Linked DNA regions of Homo sapiens: region 1 is linked to region 2. A link means that fine-mapping ties the variant in region 2 to the plasma level of a protein whose gene starts in the linked region. Region 2 holds a variant in brackets. A gene starts in the other region. All regions are shown on their forward strands.

Evidence for each region. A credible set is the group of variants that fine-mapping cannot tell apart. PIP is the posterior inclusion probability: the model's chance that the variant is causal. The UK Biobank Pharma Proteomics Project read protein levels with antibody pairs (Olink). The fine-mapping took linkage between variants from a reference panel, not from the people measured, so its PIPs are less certain.
Region 1: CD300LG starts here. The variant in region 2 is the best candidate, but not a certain one, in a credible set for the plasma level of the CD300LG protein (UK Biobank, PIP 0.55).

The regions. Positions count from the first base shown.
Region 1 is chr17:43,845,502-43,853,768 of GRCh38, forward strand. It overlaps CD300LG (CD300 molecule like family member g), which reads left to right and starts at 1,675. Exons shown (of 7, transcript NM_145273.4): 1 at 1,675-1,758; 2 at 3,057-3,392; 3 at 7,411-7,512. The coding sequence starts at 1,716. LOC107984979 (a long non-coding RNA gene) reads left to right here. Exons shown (of 3, transcript XR_001753057.2): 3 at 763-974. It overlaps LOC107985077 (a long non-coding RNA gene), which reads right to left. Exons shown (of 2, transcript XR_001752896.2): 2 at 4,249-4,800.
Region 2 is chr6:43,789,050-43,797,375 of GRCh38, forward strand. LOC105375070 (a long non-coding RNA gene) reads left to right here and starts at 8,110. Exons shown (of 3, transcript XR_007059588.1): 1 at 8,110-8,301. The variant C/G (reference allele first, on the strand shown) is at 3,541.

The DNA.
Region 1 (8,267 bases), not on the chromosome of region 2:
GGAGTGCAATGGTGTGATCTCAGCTCACCACAACCTCCACCTTCTGGGTTCAAGCGATTCTCCTGCCTCAGCCTCCCTGAGTAGCTGGGATTACAGGCATACACCACCATGCCTGGCTAATTTTATATTTTTAGTAGAGACTGGGTTTCTCCATGTTGGTCAGGCTGGTCTCAAACTCCCGACTTCAGGTGATCCACCCGCCTCAGCCTCCCAAAGTGCTGGGATGACAGGCGTGAGCCACCATGCTGGGCCATAAATATTTTTTAATCTGTGTTTTTTTAAAACTGCAAAAACAGATCACCTTTTGTAGTCTGTACATGTAAAAGAGAGTCAGGGGCTGAGATCATGGTAACAGTTTTCCCCACCGTGAACAGCTGGCCCTGCCCACTAAATGGCAGCAGTGCTTCGCAGTCATTGTGAAATTAAAACACTTCTCCCCACGTTACTAGACTCACACACACACAATCTTCCCTCCCAGAACCACTGAGTTAATGCTTCAGATATTAACCTGACAAGTCAGTAAAATTCCAACTGAACATTTGGAAGGATATATGCCAAAATATTAATGGTGCTTTTCTAAAGCAGAAGGGGAATTACAAGAAGCACTCCCTTTTTTCTTTCTTTCCTTTTTACGTTCTGTATTGTGTAAAATTTTGCTTACAACCTGTATGAACTTTGCAACCAAACCAAAAAAAAAGTCATTTTTGAAGCCAGTGTGTCAGAGCTCCCAGTAGTGTACATGTTTGTTTTGGTCCTTTCAAGGAGGATTCAAGTCTGCGATGGAGAAACCACCAATTCACTTTTTCAAATGCCAAAACAACTCCGCAGGCGTGGAGGAGACCTATCTTGCAGCGCTGTAGGCCCAAGGCACCAGGGAATCCGGTCCAGCTCAGCCCTACAGCTTTGCTCAGCCCCGTCTGCACCGCCGCCCCGTGGCCAAGGGCAGTACTGCGTCCTCCAAAAGGCAAGGGCGGAGGAGGGGCCAGGGGCCTTGCCCCAGGGGCAAGCTTCTTTCTGTCCCACTGACCACATGGCAGTCTGGTGAAGTTTATGGACCCCTCTCTCAGTATAATGGCGGGTAAATATATAAATAAAATATATATGCTGGAAAGAAAACTAATACTGGTGAGATGATTCTTAAAACTCTTTATAAATGTGTAATATAATAATAGCCGTTTCATTATTGTAAATAACCAGCTCTAGGGGCAGGTCTAGGAACTCATTGTTTTCCAAGCAGTGAGGGGTATACACGACGTTTCGAGATATCCACAACTTGATGTGCCAGTGTCTGTGATTGTAATTGGTAACAAAGTTGCAGGTACTGCTAACAGTACACTCTGAATAAGAGGAAAAGCTAAATATTAGAAGTTGATGAAAGTCAATATGTAACTTTTTCCCATGCGAATTCGACTTACAGACCCCTTAGGGCGCACGGACCACAGGTTAAGGCCCCCTTGAAGGGGCACGAGTTTAGGAGAAACTCTGGTGTGGGTTTTCAGTCCTGGAAGGTGAGCCCTGGGGTAGGCACGCGTGGGCGCTCAGAAAAGGGAAGGCAGAGGCGCCTCCCCGGCTGGGCCTGCGGAGGGATGACCCACACGCCCCTCCCCTCGCTTCCTTGGCCTGGTTTCACGCGACTAGAGAAAGTTAAAGACCCGTGTGACTGAAGAGGAGCTCACAGTTCCCAGCGTCTGCTCCCACGGTGTCCAGCGCCCAGAATGCGGCTTCTGGTCCTGCTATGGGGTTGCCTGCTGCTCCCAGGTGAGATGGGGAGAGGGTCTCGGGAGGGATGTGGGGCTCACCCTTGTGGTCTGCAGGGAAAGGACCTCTTGACTGACTGATAGCCCCACCCCACCTATCCTCAGCCTCCTCAGCCCTAGGGGAGCGGGGCGGGCTGGGGGTGGGGGGAGGTGGGGGTGGCGCCGGGGCCGCACTTGCTGTTTCTGGAACCTAGAGCCAGGTTTTCTCCAGACCTGTGGGTTTCCCCTCATGGCAATGTGGCTGTGAGAGTTGCTTTGCCTCTCTAATCTTAATTTTTCTACCCTGTGCCAAGCCTGGAGGCGGACAAGACACCCCATCTGGTTGCCCTGTTAAACTCAGCAAATATTTGTTGAATTTCGGCTATGCCTCTCCCCACAACCCTGAAAGATGAAGAATTATCACGTTTCATCAATTCTTTTGCTTTCTTTTTCTTTACCTTCTAACACTTAAAATCAGGATAAATCCTACAACTGATGTCAGTTGTTCAGTTGGCAATAGTGAGACCCCATCTCTACAAACAAACAAACAAACAAACAAACAAAATTAGCCAGGCATGGTGGTGCACACTTGTAGTCCTAGCTAGTGGGAGGCTAAGGTGGGAGGATCGCTTGAGCCCCAGAGGTCAAGGCTACAGTGAGCCATGAGCACCATTGCCCTCCAGCCTGGGCAACAGAGTGAGATCCTGTCTAAAAACAAAACAAAACCAGGCACGGTGGCTCACGCCTGTAATCCAAGCTCTTTGGGAGGCTGAGGCGGACGGATCACAAGGTCAGGAGATCAAGACCATCCTGGCTAACACGGTGAAACCCCGTCTCTACTAAAAATACAAAAAATTAGCCGGGCATGGCAGCACGTGGCTGTAGTCCCAGGTACTCAGGAGGCTGAGGCAGGAGAATCACCTGAACCCGGGAGGCAGAAGTTTCAGTGAGCAGACATCGGGCCACTGCACTCCAGCCTGGGCGGCAAAGTGAGACTCCATCTCAAAAACAAACAAACAAACAAACAAAACAAAACAAAACACTCAGAAACCCTGCTGGCTATCTGGCTGTCAGATTCTATCTGAATCTAGAACGCCACCCCTGCACCCCAATTCCTCAATGGGCCAGGGTTAGGGAAACAGCAACAGCCCTGCCCCAAGTTCCCCCAGCGTGGGAGGTTAGTAATGGCTCTTCCAAGGCTGTCCCCAGAAGGGATGACTGAGAAAAGCCTTCCTTCTTCCTCCTAAAATGGAAGCTCTGGCCTTGACCTTGGTACATGGAGCCTGGTTTTTCCAACCTCCACTCCTGCTCTGATTTTAGGTTATGAAGCCCTGGAGGGCCCAGAGGAAATCAGCGGGTTCGAAGGGGACACTGTGTCCCTGCAGTGCACCTACAGGGAAGAGCTGAGGGACCACCGGAAGTACTGGTGCAGGAAGGGTGGGATCCTCTTCTCTCGCTGCTCTGGCACCATCTATGCAGAAGAAGAAGGCCAGGAGACAATGAAGGGCAGGGTGTCCATCCGTGACAGCCGCCAGGAGCTCTCGCTCATTGTGACCCTGTGGAACCTCACCCTGCAAGACGCTGGGGAGTACTGGTGTGGGGTCGAAAAACGGGGCCCCGATGAGTCTTTACTGATCTCTCTGTTCGTCTTTCCAGGTAACAGATATCTCTCCTTCCCCAGGCTGGGGACAGGAGCTGCAGAGGGAAGAGGGAGGGGTGGTGGGGCATAATCCTGGTACCAACATTATGGGCACTGAGTCCTCAGGGAGATCATGCAGGTCAAGCACCGAGCAAGGCTTGGGGCACAGAAGGAGCCGCCTGAGTCTTGGCCATTGTCTCACTCTTGCTGCCCGAGGTCACACCAGTAGTAGATGTCAGAGCAGGACCGGACCCAGATCTGTCCAGGGCTGGGCTCGGCGCCTTTCCTTTCTGCCCAGGTGTGCTGGAGGGAGATTTCCATAGGCTGGGTACAAGATAGACATATCAGGGGATAAAGAAGACTCCTCGCCTGGTGTCAGAGATATTCCTGAGGCCTCCCGAGGCTGGGCCAACCATTGCTGCATTCCAGACCCAGCCCACAGCATCACCCTGGACATGCTGGCCTCGCCCTGCTTGTGCCCTCAACTCTCCCCTCCTGGCCTCCACCTCCCCAGATATTGAAGTCCAGCCACAGGTGCTAGAGTGCCTGGGAACCAGCCTCTGGGTAGGATGCCTGAAGGAGGGATCGTTAAATGCAGGGACACTAGGGGGCCGGGGCTGGAGCTATGGGGCCTGGGTAGGGGATAAAGCACCTCTCTGGGAGCCCAGAACCCCAAGTGGACCTGCTGAGCTAAGGAGAAAGAAGCCAGAGAGGGCCCAGGGGAGTGGGAGCCTTGGTCTGCTGGCCAGTGTGGGCGAGGTACATCTTTGTATCCCCATTTCACGGATGAGGGACTGAGGCTCCAAGAGACTAAGTGATTTGCCCAAGATCTCACAGCAGGAAGTGATGGAACTGGGATTCAAACACAAGTCGTTTCCAGCTTTGATGTCTGCTTTATTCCTCTCCTAGCCCCATAGCTGGGACCTATCCCAATCCCAGGCCCATCCCTACCACCATAGCCCCTATTTTTTTTTTATTCCTTTATCCATGGATCTTTAATTTGAGGAAATAAAGTTAAACTTGCCAAATAGCAGCAGCATCGAACCACATTGAATCTGTTCTTCATTATTTACAAGATTCTCTTATCTCTTCCAATTCTTATCAGTGTTCACATGTCATTTCTACCAGTTATGATCAAGTTCGCTTGTGTTTTAGGTTTACCCTCATTTGTAATTCTTTATTTGTGTATGACATGTGTATTGCTATATTATCGTCCTATATCGGACTCTATTGGCCTCTCTCTGATGGCAGTTGGGATGTTGAAAATGAAGAAGACTGACGACAGTGATGTGCTGGTAAATGTTTAACAGGCTGGGGATGCTGTCATTTTGTGGTGTTTTCCAATTTCTGTGGTGTCCATTTCTGTGGTCCAATTCCCATGGCCAATTTCCAGCCATCGACAGTTTAACACGATCTCACCAACTCCTGAAAAGTTAACAGTGAGCTCTTGTGAGTCAGTGCGAGCCATCTCCAGCACACCATTGAGTATGGTGAACCATGAGAAGAATTTCTAAGAAAGTCAGAAAAAGACAAATGTAGCCACTATCATTTCTTTTCTTTTTATTTATTTATTTTTATTCATTCATTCATTCATTCATTCATTCATTTTTCTGAGATGGGGTCTCACTCTGTCATCCAGACGGGAGTGCAGTGACACAATCTTGGCTCATTACAACCTCTGCCTCCCAGGCTCAAGTAATCCTCCTACCTCAGCCTCCAGAGTAGCTGGGACCACAGGCACAAGTCACTATGCCTGGCTACATTTTGGTTTTTTGTTTTTTTTTTAAGATGTGGTTTCGCCATATTGGCCTGTCTGGTCTCAAACTTCTGGACTCAAGCCATCTGCCTGCCTCAGCCTCTCAAAGTGCTGAGATTACTGGCAGAAGCCACTGTGCCCAGCCAGCCTACTATCATTTTCTTTTATTCATCTTTGCCTGAAGGCCCTAGGCAATGAAATATGCAAGATTAAGAAGTATAAGTCCCGGCATGGTGGCTCACGCCTGTAATCCCAGCACTTTGGGAGGTCAAGGCGGGTGGATCACGAGGTCAGGAGTTCAAGACCAGCCTGGCCAAAATGGTGAAACCCCGTCTCTACTAAAAATATAAAAATTAGCCGGGCATAGTGGCAGGTGCCTGTAATCCCAGCTACTCAGGAGGCTGAGGCAGAGAATTGCTTCAACCCGGGAGGCGGAGGTTGCAGTGAGCCAAGATCGTGCCACTGCACTCCAGCCTGGTCAACAGAGCCAGACTCAGTCTCAAAAAAAAAAAAAAAAAAAAAAAGAAGAAGAAGTATAAATGTTGGAAAGGAAAAGATAAATACTCTGTATTTGCAAAAGATTTGATCATCTACTTAGAAAAATCCAAGAATAAACTGACCTAGTGTTACAGATTGAGTATCCCTAATCCAAAAATGCAAAATACTCCAAAGTCCGAAACTTTTTGTGTGCCAGCATCACACACACAAAGGAAATGCTCACTGGGGCATTTTGGATTTCAGATTCCTGGATTAGGGATGCTGAATCGGCAGATATAATGCAAATATTCTGAAATCTGAAACACTTCTGTTCCCAAGCATTTTTGGATAGGGGATACTCAATCTGTAGAAGAGAAAGTGGTGGAGAAAGAGGGAGAGTCCAGGATGGCACACAGTCAGCAAGGACTGGGGAAGTGACAGATGGACTTGGGGAAGTGGGGACCGGAGTAGCTCCTGGGGAGTTGGTTGCATCAGGCTTCTGCCCACTGTGCTGGGCACAGAGGACAGGAATTTTTTTTTTTTTTTTTTTTTTTTTTGAGACGGAGTCTCGCTCTGTCGCCCAGGCTGGAGTGCAGTGGCGCGATCTCGGCTAATTTTTTGTATTTTTAGTAGAGACAGGGTTTCACGTGTTAGCCAGGATGGTCTCGATCTCCTGACCTTGTGAGCTGCCTGCCTTGGCCTCCCAAGAGGATAGGCATCTTGCCTTTAAGGAGTCTCAGCCTAGCAGGGAGACCCAGTACACAAGAAATTGCAGTGTAAGTGAGCATTAGCGCCACTGGAGGCACGCACAGGGGACTGTGAGTGCACAGAGGAAAAAGAGATTCGCTGCTTCCAGGGAAGACATTACAGAGGAGTTGACCTTGAGCTTGTGCTGAAGGACAGAAAGAAGTGCTTTAGGCAGAGATGGAAAGGAAAGGCATCGCACACAGAGGAACAGCATGTCCAAGGCACGGAGGTGGGCAGGAGGCTGGTTTAGTCGGGAATAGAGGATGACTCTATGGCTGGAGCACCGAACAGAGAAAGAGGCGAAGCTGACAAGGTGGTTCAAAGCCTCAAAGCCTGAGTTTTGTTCTTTGCTTTTTTTTTTTTTTAGAGACGAAGTTTTGCTGTTGTTGCCCAGGCTGGAGTGCAGTGGCGCAATCTTGGCTCACTGCAATCACCGCAACCTCTCCCTCCCGGGTTCAAGCAATTCTCCTGCCTCAGCCTCCCAAGTAGCTGGGATTACAGGCATGCTCCACCATACCCAGCTAATTTTGTATTTTTAGTAGAGAGGGGGTTTCACCGTGTTGGCCAGGCTGGTCTCGAACTCCTGACCTCACGTGATCCACCAGCCTTGGCCTCCCAAAATGCTGAGATTACAAGTGTGAGCCACCACACCCGGCCTGAAGCCTGAGTTTAAGAGGCCTCGAAAGGCATACTAAAAAGTTTGAACTTTGGCTTTTAGGCAATGGAGAGCCAGTGACTGTTCTAAGGCAGAGAGGGATGGGATCCAACACAGACTTTTGAGACAAAACTGGAGTAGTGTGAAGGGTGGCAGGGAAGAAGCAGGCTGAGAGGCAGGTGGGTTTGAGGCTCTGAGCTAGGCGCGAGGCCAGGGGGCTGCAGGAGTAGAAGACCAGGGATCTGCTGGAACCCGCCACGTGGCTCCTGGTTGGCCGAGGCGAAAGATGGCAGTGCTCTGTGCTGAGGTGGGGGGTAGGAAAACTGCCAGCTGCTCCCAAGGAAGGAAAAGGGGTTCAGAGCGGTGCCACCCCTGAGAGCAGCCTTTCCCTTTCCTCTAGGACCCTGCTGTCCTCCCTCCCCTTCTCCCACCTTCCAGCCTCTGGCTACAACACGCCTGCAGCCCAAGGCAAAAGCTCAGCAAACCCAGCCCCCAGGATTGAGTGAGTGAATGGCAATTCCGCCCCTTCCCTTGCCACCCTTCTTACAGAAGCAGCCAGTGAGTGCCTGCCTGGTACCAGACACAATAGTTTATGGCCACCTAGGTGTCCCCACAAGCCTGGGAGCTGGGTTGTCCAGCTGTGGAAGTGGAGGCTCAGCAGGGTTAGGTCACTTGCTCAGGGTCACACAAGAAGTGCCAGATCCCAGAAGTGGTCACAGCCTGACCCCAAAGCTCATATTCTGTCTGCGCCATCCAGAGTCTCGGGGGCAAGCCAGAAAGGCCAGGCCTTGGGCCCTGACCTCTGGACTCATCCTGCCACCCTGCCCTTCCTGGTCTCATGGCTGCAGAAGGAAGTCAAGGCCTTACTGAGGCACGGGTGGTTGGGGAGGGGGCACATGGTGGTGAGGGGAGGACCTGCCCTTCTGGTGAGGAAGGAGGTGACAATTGACTGGGACTGTAGGGGGAGGGCAGGAAGGTGTCCACTGAATGGTCACTGGAAAGGGTCATGGAAGCGGGGAAGGGGAGTGCTTATACCTCCTCACAGAGGCAACAAGCTGTGGGCACAGAAAGAGACTGAACATCATGCACAGCTGTGGGGTGTGCCTGATCTACGGTCTCCTTCCTCAAAGTGGCTTCATCTAGATCTGTTTGCTTACTGGGGTATCCTTTAGCTGGGGATGTTCCGAGAAACGGGTCCCAGGGAGGCTAGGGTTCAGGGGTCCAGGGTCAGAAGTCAGGGATGCTGGGATGCAAGGG
Region 2 (8,326 bases):
CTGCAAGCTCTGCCTCCTGGGTTCAAGTGATTCTCCTGCCTGAACCTTCCGAGTAGCTGGGACTATGGGCGCACACAAACACGTCTGGCTAATTTTTGTATTTTTAGTAGAAATGGGGGTTTCACCATATTGGTCAGGCTGGTCTTGAACTCCTGACCTAAGATGATCCACCTGCCTCGGCCTCCCAAAGTGCTGGGATTACAGGCATGAGCCACTGCGCCCAGCCTATTAATGAGAAATTGTATACTCTTTTGGTACTAAGTCTTTGCGTCTGTCCAAGGGCAGAAATTGGGTGTAAAGAAAAAATAAATCTTTGAATCTGGTGGGTGTTTTATATTTATCGCATGTCTCAATTAGTTGTAGCCACGTTTCGAGTGCTTAATATACACATGGCTAGTGGCTACCATTTCAGACAGAATAGCTTTAAAATGTACTCCCCCCTTTGTTTGTCTCCCCCAACTAGAATGCAAGCTCCATGAAGGAAGAGATTTTTGTCTGTTTTGTTCAATGTATCTCCAGCTCCTGGAACACAGTACATGCTCAATAAACATTTGTTAAATGACTGACATTGTTGAAACTGAGGCCTGGACCTGAAGGTTTCATCCCAAGACTACGGAGGTGAGTACAGGATTTCTACAGAGGTGCCAGGAGTTGTTGGTGAGGGTTAGCTGGACAGGTGGGGACTTAAGTGGGGATTGTCTAGAAGAAGTGAACTCAAAGTCAGCTGGTAGGGATTACAGCAGAGGCCTCTTTGTCAGTGCCAGTACCGTCTCCTCTTAGCCACCCTGGGGATGGGGCTCATTATTATTGCTTGGCAGATGAGAAGCAGGAGGCTCAGAGAAGGTAAATAACTTGCCCGAATTTACACGCAGCCAGTAAATGGCCAAGCCAGAATTTAAACCAGCTTTTCTGACTCCAAATCTAGTGCTCTTTTTACCACACCACAGCTGCCTCAGGCTAGGGCAGGACATCAACAAATAAAAATGAATCGTCTAGACTCAATACAAACAGGGAAGAAGAAAAGTGGGACAGGGGGAGGATGTAGTGCTGGCCAAACCCAGGGCTGAAATCCAGACTTCCCCAAGTGTGGTAAGGCAAGGCAAGGCAAGCAAGAGATGTCTCCAGGGGCTGGGGCTCGTCAGTGGAAGATCGGAAACCTAAGCATGCAAGAGATTGCAACACACGGCCTTAGATGAGAGAAACAGCCTTGAAACAGACCACGGAGAAAAGAAGGAGAACATGAAAATGCCACCTCCCCCAGTTGTATAAGACCTGCCCAGATACCCCCCTGGAGCCATTCCCAAGGATCTCTCCAGACCTAAGCAAGTCCCAGGGCCTACCCTGCCTTCCCAGATCATCTCCTCTCTGTGGGACTCACACCGCCTGGTCTAGCCACTGTTTCCTCTGGAGCTACCCAGTGCTCCTTCTCCTCTGTCTAGCCTGAGACTCTCCCTTCTCCAAGGAGCTGCCCATCCTGCTCCCGGCCCTGAAAGGCCTTTAGAGAGCCTGCTGGCCCACTCTCCTCCCTCCCACAAGAACTGAAAGGCTGACGGGTGGATCCATACAAAACTTGGTGATTCTGGATCAATTTCGTGTGTTAGGATCATTGTGGTGGCCAGTGTGCAAACATGGCTGTCAACAGTTCTTTCCATCCCTGTGCCCACGTGCTTTGCCCCCCAAGAAGTAGAGTCTATTTTTCCTCTTTTTGAATCTGGGCCGGCTTTATGACTTGCTTTGAATAAAAATGCAACACAAGAGAGATATTCTGGGACTTTCAGGTCTAGGCATTGTAGTGTCAATTTTTGTCCTCTTGTAAGGCAGCTGCCAGGCTATAACTGTCCAAATACTCTACTGGAGAGAGAGACTGTGGAGAGACAGAGAGAGATAGGGGAAGAGAAACAGAGAGATAGAGGAAGAGAGAGACAGAGATGGAGAGAGAGAGAGAGGCTCAGCCAACTCCCAGCTGTTCCAACCACCTGAAGCTGAGGCACCAGACATGTGAGTGAAGTCACTTTGGATTCCCTAGCGCCAGGTGAGCCACTCTAGCCAACAACACATAAAGTAGAGAGAAGCCATCCCTGCCCCAGTTTAGTGAGTTGTAAGCAAATGTATGCACTGTGTTGTTTAAAGCTACTAAGTTTTGGGGTGGTTATTATTCCTCAATAATAACTGAGCCATCTAACAAAACAGTCATTTCCTTGGCATTAGGGTGTTTGTCCCTTCCCATCCATAAGGTTTAACTGGTATTCATGAAGTGGATGGAGGGATGTTCAAGGAAAGAAGGGTGTGTTTATAAGGGAATCAGAGACCAGGCATCTGCCATGGTGGTAAGTTTGGTGAGAAGTCAGGGTAAGGGCTGACCCAGGCAGGACAAAATATTGTCCTAATTTCTAGAGTGAGGAGAGTGACTTGGTTGTACTGGAGTCTTACCAAGAGAAAGTGGGCCTCACCTACAGCATGGGGGATAGAGGATAGAGGATGAGAAGAACTGCCAGAGAGCACAGCATGAGGGATTTGGAGGAAAAGACTGTGGAATCCTTTTCTTCCCTTCTTCCTTCCATCCTCCAGCGTTTATGGAATACCAGCCATATGTACTATGCCCTGGTGCAGGGATGGTCTCTCATTTACTAGGAGGGGCTTTAGCATGAGCCAGCCTAGAGGTGGGGGATGGATGGGCTGACCCTTGGAAGGCTCCATCAGGTTGGCTTCAGAGTTGCTGGGAGAGAGATAATTCAGCTACATCCGCAGGACATTGTCCATTAGGACATGGGACTAGGGGAGGGCAGGGAAGGAATCAGTAAATATTTATAATCTGCCTAGAAAAGGAAAATGCAAGGCAAAGACAGGGCTTGACTGAGCATCTGCTGAGAAGGAACAGAAGGGGTGACGTGGAAGGGGAAGAGCTAGAACCCAGGGAGCAGTGAGTCAGAGGAAAGGGCCCACTAGGCACAGGTGCCTATGGTGCAAGGCTGGGCTTGAGTCTCCCAGGACAAGAGGGGGCCGGGATCTGACAAAGATTTTCAAAGGCTGCGTTTGCCTTTGGGGAGTTAGTCTCTCTATGAGGGAAGTGCAAGTACTGCTCCCAGGGAGCTCCCAGTCTCAAGGAGGATTGACATGGCCCTGGCCCTCAGGATGCTCCCGGTCCTTACAGAGTATCTAATCTGAGGGAGGAGACAGAGCTTCTGCCATCAGACATTTCTTTGGATACTAGTTTCGGGAAGGCACCACCCTGCCACCATTTGGCTGTTGCACTGTTCGGAGTCACCGGATGCTGGTACCCCATCCTTCCCTCCACTCTCGGTGCGCATTCACAATGCTCACAGGGCTTCTCTTGTGTTTGTCATCAGCCATGCGTGGCTCACCAGCCTGGGCCCTGATTTTCTCCACACATCCCCTGACGGTCCCTGGGTCTGGCTCCAAGTGGAGCAGATGCTAGCACATGTCCCTTTCCTGGGCTTCTCCTGTCTCCTCTCCTGGAGAGGCCTGAGAACCCTGTTCATCAGCTCCTCAGACTTCCTGCAGGAAGACTGTTCCCCTACT[C/G]CCTGTCTGTAGCTCATCCAGCTGTCCTGGGGCTGGAAGCTTCTGAGGAGGTGATGCCCTGTGAGGCCCGGCCATAGGGACCTCTCTTTGGATGCCTCTGCAGAGCCTAATCTGGGCCGCCCTAAGTCCCATCAAGACTTCTGACAGATCTAGATTGGAATCCTGGGTCTGCCACTGGAGAAATTACTTGCCTGCACCTCAACTTTCTCATCTAAAATGGGCACAGTAACACCTACATGATGGAGTTTGAGGGCCTGAAGTGACATTGACATGTAAAAGTACCTCATGAAGTGACTGGTACATAGGATGTCCTAAAAAAAAAAGTCATTATCATCTTGTTGTTATTCTAGTCTCCATGCCAATGCTTTTTCCTCTCTGAGTGCCCCCTTTAGTACATTTTGGTTGTTTGTGGGGCTTTTTTCCCACTTTTTAAAAAAACCTGAAATGGTCTGGCTGGATTTTATAACCATTTTTGCAAGCATGCATCCTTACTCTCCTGCTGAGGAGTGAGGCACGCCAGGGCAGGTTCAGCCCTGGAGCCCAGCAGTGAGAGAAAGGGATTGGACTGAAGGGAAAAGAGGGTGTGGAGAGCCCTTCCTGGTAGGGATGATGCCCTGTGGCTTTGAACCCAGGACCAGGTACAAGGTGGGCTTGCATGAGTATTTGTAGAATTAATGAACAAATGAACAGGAGCAGAATGCATGGCCAATCTTCTCTTAGGTCCCCCAAACACACTGGGAACCTCCAGTCTGATGGAGGAGGCCGGATGTCCACCCTTATACACACAGCTGTGCTCTGGGCAAGAAATGCTGAGGCTGGGCAGGGCTGCTTGGGCCAGGCTGCAGTGGACGGATGCCCCCAGGGCTGTCTTCAGAAGCTCCCTCAAGGTGGAAACCTGTCTGTTCCAGGATGTTTAGGTGAAATGATTTGTGGTATAGGTATGGAAGGGCCTCTGGGACCCAGGCAGGGGAGAAGCCCTTCCCTGGGACTTTGGAGAGCTGGGAGCTGCCATCTCCTGGGGAGGCCACAAGAGGATGTCTTCTGGGGAAATATTCAGGGAGGGTGTTTGCTTTTGGCTCCCAAAGGCATCTCCACCCCCACCCCAGGTCTCCCCTACTTCACTCCCCAGGGTTCCCTCCCAGCTGCTCTCCTGGCCAGCCTGAGATAGAGAGAGGATGGCAGGGCTTGCTGGGCCCCTGAGGCTGGGACTGGTGGGGAAGGTCTGGCCCCAGCAGATGCCCTCCTGAGGCGTCCTCGCTTCTGGAGCGAGACTCCTACTATAGATCTTCTTTCACACGGGTACATCCACACGGGCTCGCACACACACAAGTGTGACAGGGGTCACTATTGCCAGTCACGGGGCAGCCGCCTGGTTGGGTAAGGGTTCCTAGGGGCTGGGTGAGGCCCAGCTGGGGGAGCCAGCATCTCGGGACGAGCCCCCATGGGGCTGGGGGTTGGGGGCTGACCTGGCTGCGGTCCCATGACCCAGAGCTGCCCTCTGGGAACTGCTGACTGTTCAGCAATAAACACCTCATGGCTATTAATAGTCTTCTGTGTGGCAGCCCAGAATTGATAACACTGGGTCACTTCTGGCCTGGCCCAGCCTGACTGCCTGGGTTCAAATCCTGGCTGCAATTTCTGAGCCCCGAGGTCCAAAACCCAAACCCCAAACACAGCCCCAGCTCCGACAGCTTCTCAGCTATGTTTAGGACAATTACCTTTCTGCATCTCACTTGCCATCTCTGAAACAGGCACCATGATATCTATTTCACAGTGTTTCGTGTACATATGATCATGTCATCCTCCCCACACCAGACATTGGCAGTAGTGTCCCCATACTAGAGCTGAGAGTGCTGGTGCTCAGGGAAATGCAGATGGTTATAGGAGGATGACTGGCATGCAATAAGGGCCCGATAAAGGTTAGCTATTGTCGTCGTGATTTGGCACAAGGATGTAGGAAGAGAGGATTTGAAATCGGACAGAGCTGAGCTCTACTTTTGACATCAGTAGAGTTTTCTAGCTCTGTGACCTTGGGCAAGTTGCTGGATCTCTCTGGGGCTCATTGTCTTGCTCTGTAAAATGGACATGGCAACACCTACCTCCCAGGTGTTGATGTGGATTATATTAGACAATGAACACACAGTGATTGCCACTTAAAAGGGAAGGAGGGAAGAAGAGACCTGGAGTGAGGGGAAGAGTTCAGCTGGATGCTGGTAAAACCCACCCCCAGTCCCCTCTTAAGGGGCTCAATAAATATGGTACTTGTAGAATGAATGAATAAATGAACATTAGTCACCTCACCCTGTCAGGGTCCCCAAGAGCAGGGACAAATTCTCTCTGATTAGCCCGTGTGCTCCCTGATGGTGAGGGTATGACCTTGGGCCTTCTCCCTTGGGGAGAAAGGGATCTACGGATCCCTTTAGATGAACCATCTAAAATGCCGAGCCTTTTTGGGGATGGTTCATTCTCTTGGTGTGGCAACAGCCAGTGCAGAAACCCACAAGGAAAAATGGAAACAACTTTTCCTTTCCTTCTCGTAATGAGGTGCAGGCAGGGCACAGGGCCCTAAGCCCTGGGCACAGAGTCTCAGGCCTACAATTAATCCCTTCCCAGGATGTGGCCCCAGGCTCGGCTCCTGGCTGCATCCCCAGCATTGCTCTGTGCCCCACTCCCCAAGTCCTAGTGCTTACCCCCCATTCTGGGGACTGGGGAAGGGTACATTTTGCTGGCAAAGATTATGGGAGCCCAGGGAATGCCTTCTTGTTGAGGCCAGCGGGGCTCATCCCCTTTCCTTGTGACTGTGGTGACCCCAGCCACACCCTTGACACTGCCTAAGTCTCTGGCAGCCATAGTAAAAACCCAAATGGTGGTGCTGGTGGTGGGTGGAGGGCACGCAGTGGGGAAAGGGGGCAGAAGAGACATGGGGGTGAGGGGAAGGGCTCAGCTCGATGCTGGTAAAACCCTCCTCCAGGCCCCATGACTTCGGAGAAACTGCCTCTCTCCCACCCCGGCCCCCAGATGCCAGTGGTGTGCCGGCCGTTGGCGTTTGCTTCACAGGAAGTGTCCCTGGAGTCTTGCTTATCTTGAATGGGTGGCTGCTGGGAGGGGGCAAAGGAAGCCATTTCTTCCCTCGCCCACCATTACATGTCCACTCCAAAGGCTATCTCTTGCATCCCAGACCATCCTCTCTCCCTCTCTGAAGGTGGGAAGGAGGTATCCATGATCTGAGGACTACCTTCTAGGGGATGGGGGGTCCCAGAGCCCCTCATCTCTGTCTCACCCTCACCCTGGGTCAATACCAGGTACCTGGACATGAAGCTCTTCCTCAGTTTCTCCTGCTGTCTGTTAGTCCTGCATGGGCCTCAGGCCTCTCTGGTCAGCTGGCCTTCTGGGTCTGAGGAGGGAAGATCCTAGAAGTAAGTTGTCAGATGCAGCAAATAAAAACACGAGGTGCCCCATTAAATTTTCATTGTTTGTGTGAAATTCAAATTTAACTGGGCATCCCGTACTTTGTCTGGCAACCCTGCCTGGATGGAGTGGCTGGACCTCCCTCTTGCGAGTTCTCAGTTGCTTTGCTGCTCCCCTTCCTCCTCCCCAGCCTTCTCACTGCTTTGCTGCTGAGGTATCCAGTGTAGACATTGTGTGTGGGCCCTCGTTCTGGATTTGTCCTCACTTTCTGCCTGCAGCAGAGATCTGAAACAAATTAGGAGCTCTCTGAGGGCACAGGCAGTGTCTCCCCCATCAGACTGGGAGCCTCCTTTGGATTGAGTCCATGTGACCTTGTAGCCAGGCCACTCCCCTTTCTCCTTTTCATCGTGCTCTGGAGGACCTGGCGCTGACCCTCAAGGCTGACCTTTTCCACAGGCTTAGCATAGCCTTCACTGCTGCTACCTGCAGAAGCTCTGAGAGAGCCTCAGTAAACATCCGTCTCCTCCTCCCTGATGACCTGCCGGTGGGAATTCTCTTCCCCAGTCCTCATTCTGCAGGCAGCTATCTCCGAGTCCCTCAGGCTCTGGAAACTTCCAGTGGAAACAATTCTCTGGGAGCCAAGACCCCAGAGCTCTGGCTGGGGCTCTGTCACCAACCAGCCCTGTGACCTCAGGCAGCTCTTGGTTGTTCTCTGGGCCTCAGTGTCCCTACCTGTACAATGGCACTATATCTAGCTTGCTGACCTTGGGGTAGGGTTTCCAAAATGCACATTGTGATCTATGTGGGTCATGAAGTCGATTTAACAGCATGCAACCAGCATGATTCTTTTTCTTAAATAGGAAGAGAATAGGGCAGAAAATATTTAGTCTTGCATAGAGTAAGGGTAAGTATTGTTTCTTGAAACTTGTGTGGAGTGTGTGTGTGTGTGTGTGTGTACATGCGTTCTGGGTCATGAGGTAGGATATATTTTTCAGGGGGGTTGTGGTAAAACAAAAAAGTAAGGAAGTCAGTACTGGAAGCTGTGACAGAAGGGTGACGGTGGCAACTGGAGACCCGGACGTGGTCTCTGCTACTTCTCCACGTCACGGAGATGACAGGCCCACTTACAACCTCCTGTCTGGGGTTCTTCCTTGCTCTCTTGAGTAGTCTTCCTGCCCTGCCTCTGCTGAGCTCATGCCCCTCTCTACCCAGAGCCCAGGGCCCTCCCAGCTGAGAGCTCTCAGGAGCTAGTCTGGTTCCCTGGGCCACTCCAATAAGAGAAGAAGATTCTGGGATCCACAGCCTGGTGGTGTCCAGTCTGCCCAGCTGCCTCCGGCCTGGTTCTGCCTCACGGTAATAATACTGGATTGGGAAACTG